2 linked regions of the Homo sapiens genome follow. The protein of the gene in region 1 purifies or fractionates together with the protein of each later gene. This does not show direct contact. Each region holds a gene or a part of one and is shown in the gene's direction. Other genes may lie near its edges. The genes, in order: SEPTIN10 and PSME4.

Evidence for each region.
Region 2: the proteins of SEPTIN10 (region 1) and PSME4 fractionate together in Homo sapiens (co-fractionation; one large-scale study listed by BioGRID). This does not show direct contact.

Annotation. Positions count from the first base shown.
Region 1 is NC_000002.12:109,561,679-109,565,501, reverse strand, and holds part of SEPTIN10 (septin-10), read left to right. Parts: intron 1-967; coding exon 968-1,136; intron 1,137-3,823. UniProt on the Homo sapiens protein: Filament-forming cytoskeletal GTPase. May play a role in cytokinesis.
Region 2 is NC_000002.12:53,960,926-53,964,748, reverse strand, and holds part of PSME4 (proteasome activator complex subunit 4), read left to right. Parts: intron 1-3,823. UniProt on the Homo sapiens protein: Associated component of the proteasome that specifically recognizes acetylated histones and promotes ATP- and ubiquitin-independent degradation of core histones during spermatogenesis and DNA damage response.

The DNA of each region.
Region 1 (3,823 bases):
TGGAAAGTAGTGTTCAGACATAAAACATCACTAATTACCACTTAAGTATAAGAACAGTCAACCATCTTATAAATTTATATATTTTTACTGATCAAAGTATTGCCGGCTATTTCCAGAATAAGCCAGTCAGCCAACTTAAAAAGTTAAATCTACTTGACATTTAGATTATTTAGCTGACATTATAATGAGTAAGTAAATAGTATTATATGGTTCATTTACTTATAGTGCTAATTAATGGTGAATAGATTACCCTTACTAGTATGGATTTCCAAATGCTGATTTTTTTTCTTAATTGATAAATTTTGTAATGAATGAAAAAATTGAGAAAATATAACATTTTTAATTTTATAAAAAATGTAAAAGTAATAATTATACTTAAGAGTATTGGTCACAATAAAATATATTTATTTGTAGTCCTCTGGTCACCGTAAACATAGAAGAAGGATCATGTAAGTGTGTTCACTAATTTTGAATAGTGTCTAACACAGGATCATAAATGTGTTCTATAAAAAGAATTTGATAATTATAGCAGGGAAGGATAGTATTCTTGAGTTTGCAGAATTTACTACTTTGAAGTTTTAGTGAACTAATATTACATACTCTTTAAACATTATGTGAAATGTCTTCAGGATAGTTTGTAAACTGCTAACAAAATATTAGTGTGAAATAACTAGAACACTTGGTTAACAATAAGTTGTGTCTTTTTTGGTATTTCCTGGTGATTCATTGGCTACTAAATTTAAAGTAAATCTGGTCTGTTAATTCACATTGCCTATGATACAGTATTTATACTGCAAGAGTTTCTTCCTTGGTTACATGTATAAAATAATCGTAGCTGTTAATCAAACTGATCATTTGCTATTTGTTGTTTCACATGTTTTCATTTATTTGTTCATTCAGCAAACACTTAGTTGTGTGCCAGGAATTAAAATCCAGTGTTGTTCTTTTCTTATTTTTTTTTGGCTAGTGGAAAATGAAAACCACTGTGACTTTGTAAAGCTGCGGGAAATGCTCATTTGTACAAATATGGAGGACCTGCGAGAGCAGACCCATACCAGGCACTATGAGCTTTACAGGCGCTGCAAACTGGAGGAAATGGGCTTTACAGATGTGGGCCCAGAAAACAAGCCAGTCAGGTAGGGTGGGGTTCTTGGGAAGCCAACCAAAGAGGAAGTTAGAGAGGATTGCATATTTTTATATATCCAGGATGATGGGGCATGTGTTCTTTAGAATCTCCCAAAACCATGATATAGAATCATTTGGTAATGACTAATTATTGTGCTTCTTGAATCACTTGACTCCTTCTTGCTTTTGAAGAGTCTTGCTTTTTAAGTCCTTGTCTGACTCAAAAAGAGTTAAATATGATGAAGAATGTATGGCAGAGGCCCCCTGTTTCAGTTCATGCTGACATGAGTAACTGAAGGAAAATACCCTCATTATTTGATTTCTTTTTGTATTTATCTGAGACGATGATATATTTAACTGTTGTCATAAAGGTAAGTTGGAACACAAATCATTTTCTTAGTTTTATTTATTTATTTTTTGTAGAGACAGGGTCTTACTATGTTGCCCAGGCTGGTCTCAAACTCCTGGCCTCAAGTGATCCTCCTACCTCAGCCTCGCAAAGCTTTGGGATTACAAATGTGAGCCTCCATACCAGTCCTCAGGAATCATTTAAAATAAACTAAAACATTTTCTGTTGGTTTTTCTTCTGTAAAGGTTTTGGAATGAGTGAAGCTTAGCAAAACATATTATAAAGGAAGAAGGAGAGTGCTTGTAGGGAGTTGGAGATTAGATTGTTTCTTGCCATATTACAGTGTAGTTATAAGAATTTTAGAATCTGAACCCTTCCTTGCTCAGTAATATAAAGCATTAAAAGTTGTAGAAACTTCCTTGGTAATTTTATATGGTGCTGTATCCCAGACTTTATGCAACTCAAATCCTTAGTGTACTGAATCAGATCAATTTGATGTAGCATTCCAGAACAGTGTTTGCATGCAGGAAAGCGTGAGATCCTTGGGACAAGTGCTATTTTAAACTCTCTTATGAGACTGAGGATTCCTTTTCCATTGCATTGTTTGCATTTGTTATTTCTCTGGTTCTTAGCACCTGCACCAGAGTAAACAAAAGAAAGGGGGAGGAGTGCATCAAATTAGTGCCGCTGTTGCATATAAGCTTTTGGAAGACTTAATCTTAGATGAAGTTAAATTTTTAAATTTCTTCAGTCTATGGAGTTAATTAATGTTTTCACTTCTGGTAGCATAATGAATTAAGAATTGTATATACTTATGGCCGGGTGTGGTGGTTCATGGCCTGTAATCCCAGCACTTTGGGAGGCCAAGGCGGGCAGACCACTTGAGGTTAGGAGTTCAAGACCAGCCTGGCCAACATGGTGAAACCCCGTCTTTACTAAAATTACACAAATTAGCTGGGTATGGTGGCACACTTCTGTAAAACCAGCTACTCAGGAGGCTGAGGTAGGAGAATCACTTGAACCTGGGAGGCAGAGTTTACAGTGAGCTGAGATCGTGCCACTGCACTCCAACCTGGGCAACAGAGCGAGACTCCATCTCAAAGAAAAAAAAAAAAAGCATTGTGTGTACTTAACCCACCCTCACCAAATTCAGGCATAGGATGCTTCTGGTTGTGGGCCAGTCATTCTCGTAAACTGACAATTTTCTCATGATATTGTCTTCACTAAAGATTAATCATCTCGAGTTAGCTTCCCTAGTGTTTCTCAGAGGAGACTCACTTCTCATTTCTTCCAAGTCTCAGGGTCACTTCAGAGGCCTCTGTGCACTGAGGTGGAAGGGGTCCTGAGTAAGAGCGGGCAGGGACAACTTTGAAGTCCTCTCTGAGGAGACAGGCCTAGGTGTCTGGTGGAGTCATCATCAGTCACCTGTGGATGATTAAGAAATGCAGGGTCAGAATTTCCAGGGATGAAGCCTAGAAATCTGCAGTCAGAATTCTTAGTCATTCAGCAAATAGTTTGTCTGCTATCTGCTCAGCCAAATGCTAGTCATTGGGTGTATGTGCACTGTTGGATCAAATAGAGACCCTGCTTGTGTAGAGTCTCTGTTGAGGGGTGGGAGGAGGACCCCTATGTGAAGAAGAGAGTTGGGGGAGGGGGGCAGGTGGAAGTGGGGAGACCAAGTTAGGAGGTTGCCATGGTGGTCCAGGCATGAGAAGATGGAGGCGTGAAAGAGAGGGGTAGTGACAGAGGGGTGAGAAGCATGCTTAAGACATGTATTTTTTTAAATTTAATTTTATTATTATTATTATTATTTTTGAGATAGAGTCTCACTGTGTTGCCCAGGCTGGAGTTCAGTGGCATGATCTCTGCTCACTGCAACCTCTGCCTCCTGGGTTCAAGCGATTCTCATGCCTCAGCCTCCTGAGTAGCTGGGACTATAGGCATGCACCACCACCCCCAGCTAATTTTTGTGTTTTTGTAGTAGAGACAGGGTTTCACCATGTTGGCCAGGCTGGTCTTGAATTCCTGGCCTTGGGGTCAGGAATTCCTGGCCTTGAATTCCTGGGGTCTTGAAACCCCATCTCTACTAAAAATACAAAGTGATCTGCCTGCCTTGGGCTCCTGAAGTGATGGGATTACAGTGATGGATCACACCTGGCTAAGGATATGTAATTTGAAATTAAAGTCCATAGGACCCACTGATAAATTATTTTTGCATATGGGATTTGAAGGAAAGAGAGGGATCAAGGATAACTCAGTCACCACTTTGACCTAGAAAATGGGGTGACTGGTGGTGATCGTTATTGACCTGAGGAGGATGGGAATCAGAGAGTTTAGGGGTGTAGTTGG
Region 2 (3,823 bases), about 56 Mb from region 1:
TAAGTGGCCACAGGAGCACCCACATTCATATCATCCCCGTGTTGGGAAAGAAAGGAAATGCTAACTGCTGAATCTGCATTGTCTGGTATGAGGCACCTAAGAGTATCTAATGTTTGAGTATTGAAATTGAAGTACACAATAAATGCAAGTGGTTTTATTTGTAAATGAATCTTGAAATCTTGACAAGTTACCAAACTCATCAGTGAGAACCAGTTAGAGAGAGTGATAGAAGAGGTTTTACTTTGTTGTTAAGTGATCATTCAAAATGGGAACCAAAATTTCTTTGTAGTGAGAAAGTTGATTTTCCATAAGGGGAAAAAAAAGGAACTGATTTTGGAGAACATGAATTTCTTTGATAAAGTTGTATAATGTAATAGCACAATAAGACATATTTCATATTTGATTTTTTCAAAAATTTTATTTCTGAGAGCAATTTTAGGTTCACAGCAAAATTGAATGGAAAGTATAGAGTTCCTGTATACCCTCTGTCTCTACACATGCATACATTTGATTTTTCATGATGATGTCACACATATACTTTTTTTTCAAAAATATTTGAGGCCCTTACTGTTTTCCAGAGATCTCTCAGTAATTTCTTGAAAACAGCTTGTCGTTTTCTTTTCACTAGTTAATTGGCTATTTCTTCCTGAACATCACTGGCCAATGAGCATATGTGTGTTTCTGATTTGAAGTTTTCTAATATTTAAACTCTTTTCATTACATATTTTTTATTATGAAAAATATCAAATATTCAAAAGACAATATAATGAACCTCATCACCTATCTTCACTTAATTAACTCATGGCCAGTTATGTTCTTTTCATCATCCCCTTTCCCCATTGTTTTTGAAGTATATTATTTATTCATGAATGTTTCCAGTATATATCTTCAAAGGAAAAGGAATTTTTTAAAAAAAGCAATACCAATACTATTATAAAACCTAAAAAAATTAACATCTATTATCACTTTGATCAATCTCATAAGGTTCTGCTTCTTTGCCAAATTTGTGATTTTACTTCTGAGTTTCCATTTCATTTGCATTTTTTTGCCTAAGGTTTACTGTAATCAAATCTCATGGACAGAGATCAAGAAAATAGCTCATTAATGAACATTTTCACATTATGACATCTTTCATTTCTGCCTTTTACCTTTGAAGACTTAGACTCAATCCTGGGGTAACAAGTATTCTCTTAAGTTACCTTCATTTAAAAAATGAAGACACAAGAGGCTCATAGGTTAGTGTACAGTCATGGGTTAATACAGTGTAGTAGAGGCAGACATCAATCTTCTTTGAACACAATTTTTTGAGTGCAATGCGTGGGCTGGGCACTGGTTTTGGCGTTTGGGATGTATCAGCGCAAGTTTTCTGCCCTCTGGAAGTTTCAGTGCGCTCTTTCTTTTTTGTGTGTTTTTTTTTGAAGAGATGGTCTTGGTCTCTTACCCAGGCTGGAATCATAGGGAGTGCAATCATACCCCCCTGTTTTAACCTTGAGCTCCTGGCCTCGAGCGATCCTCCCATCTCAGGCTCCTGGTTAGCTTGGACTACAGACATATACCACCACGCCAAGCTAATTTTTAAAGTTTTTCTTGAGACAAAGTCTCACTATGTTGCTCAGGCTGGCCTTGAACTCTTGGGCTCAAGTGATCCTCCACCTTTGCCTCCTGAAAGTGTTGGGAAAGTGTTGGGATTACATGCGTGAGCCACTGCATATGGTATGTGTCCTTTTTTTTTTTTTTTTGACACTGAGTCTCGCTCTGTTACCCAGGCTGGAGTGCAGTGGCGCGATCTCGGCTCACTGCAGCCTCCACTTCCTGGGTTCAAGTGATTTTCCTGTTTCAGCCTCCTGCGTAGCTGGGACTACAGGTGCAGCCACCATGCCTGGCGAATTTTTCTGTTTTTAATAGAGATGGGGTTTCACCTTATTGGCCAGGATGGTCTCGATCTCCAGACCTCATGATCCGCCTGCCTCAGCCTCCCAAAGTGCTGGGATTACAGGCGTGAGCCACCGTGCCCAGCTGTGTGCTTTATTCAGTGCACATTTTTGTTCATTTAGGACAGACTAGGCCAGGTGGTAACTTCATCAAAAACATTGAAGAAAATAGGAATTCTGAATGTATTATTTGAAAAGAAAATCTCATTCTGACCACTGTGTTTTAATGCCTTACTTTGAGGCACTAAGAAAGGCAGTTAGAAAAAAGAAATGTACCGTTTGATGTTCTGAGATCTGAATGTCACTTAAGAATGGTTTTCCCAAGTGTTCTTTCTGCAGTGTTGTAAAATAAAATTGTATTTGAAATACCTGTTGTTAATTGAAGTGGAGGCAAATTTTTACTGTTTTTTTTTTTTTGGCAAGCTTGTAAATAAGCATATAACTATATAACTTCTAAGAACTGTTTTTCTTATGGAACCTGGGAATTAACTTTTTTCTGCTAAATGAGACTTATTTTTAGAGAATCCCTTTCGCCCCTGTAAAAAGTAGAGGTTCCTCTTCAAAGACTTTCCTCCCCATCTAATTAGGAATAAATAGTAACTTCTCTTACAAGCAAAATTTATTCAAAGACCCTTGCAAACATTCTTAAATATCTGCTAGCCATAATGAAGAAATCAATGTACTTTATGTTCTTAGCTCCCACAATTTAGCCTAAATATTTGCCCTGGCATGCTTATACTGGTCCAAGCAAGCATTAGGTCATAGCCTGTTCCTCTTCCTTATTTGAAGGTGTTTTTATCTTTCTCAGCATTCCACAAGTTACTTCCTCCTTCCTTTGTTCTCTGCCTTTGCCTCTTTTAAAAAGTTCTAAGTTGCTAGCCAATCGGGACAAATACAGAATGTGAGGTCCCGTTCTAGCAAGTGGAAACCGGACACAACAGTAGGGTGGACGCTTCGGGTTATAAATGACCCTGTCTCCTTTGTTGGGTGTACTCTCCTGGCAAAACTGCTGGCGAGTGTACCTTTTCTGCAGAAAGTATAAAAATGGCCTTGCTGAGGAAATTAAATTTATGTTGAAGTGCTGTTTCTTTACAGCAATGGGGAATGAGCATTTCAAACATCCCCCTTCCCCCCCTTATTTTTAGACAGTCTTGCTCTGTCGCCCAGGTTGGAGTGCAGTGGCGCTGTCACAGCTCACTGCAAACTCAACCTCCCAGGCTCAAGCGATCTTCCCATCTCAGCCTCTGGAGTAGCTGGGACCACGGGCATGTATCAGCACACCCAGCTAGGTTTTTATTATTTTATTTTTATTTTTGTAGAGACAGGGTCTCACTATGTTGCCACGGCTGGTCGCAAACTCCTGGGCTCAAATCTTCCTGCCTCGCCCTCCCAAAGTGCTGGGATTACAGGCATAAGCCACTGCACCTAGCGCCTCTTCCCTCCTTTTCAAATACAAAAATCCTAATCTATGTTTCTGTCTAACCTTTGTAGAAAATTAGATCAAAATCTCATTCTATATGAACACCAAACTGAGAGCATGGTAGTAAAAACGGTAAGCAAACAACAACAGCAACAGAAAACCTCTACATTCATTGAGACCTCTATTGGAATGTTAAAAGCAGCACATACTATAAATATTCCCATTTGGAACCTTGAGGTTGACTACTTCTGTATTTGGTTTACACTTAACATTTCTTCTCTCTCTTTCTTTGAGACTGAGTCTTGCTCTGTCACCCAGGCTGGAGTGCAATTGTACCATCTTGCCTCACTGCAACCTCTGCCTCCCAGGTTCAAGCGATTCTCCTGCCTCAGCCTCCTGGGTAGCTAGGATTACAGGCATGCGCCACCATGCCCAGCTAGTTTTGTACTTTTAGTAGAGACTGGGTTTCTCC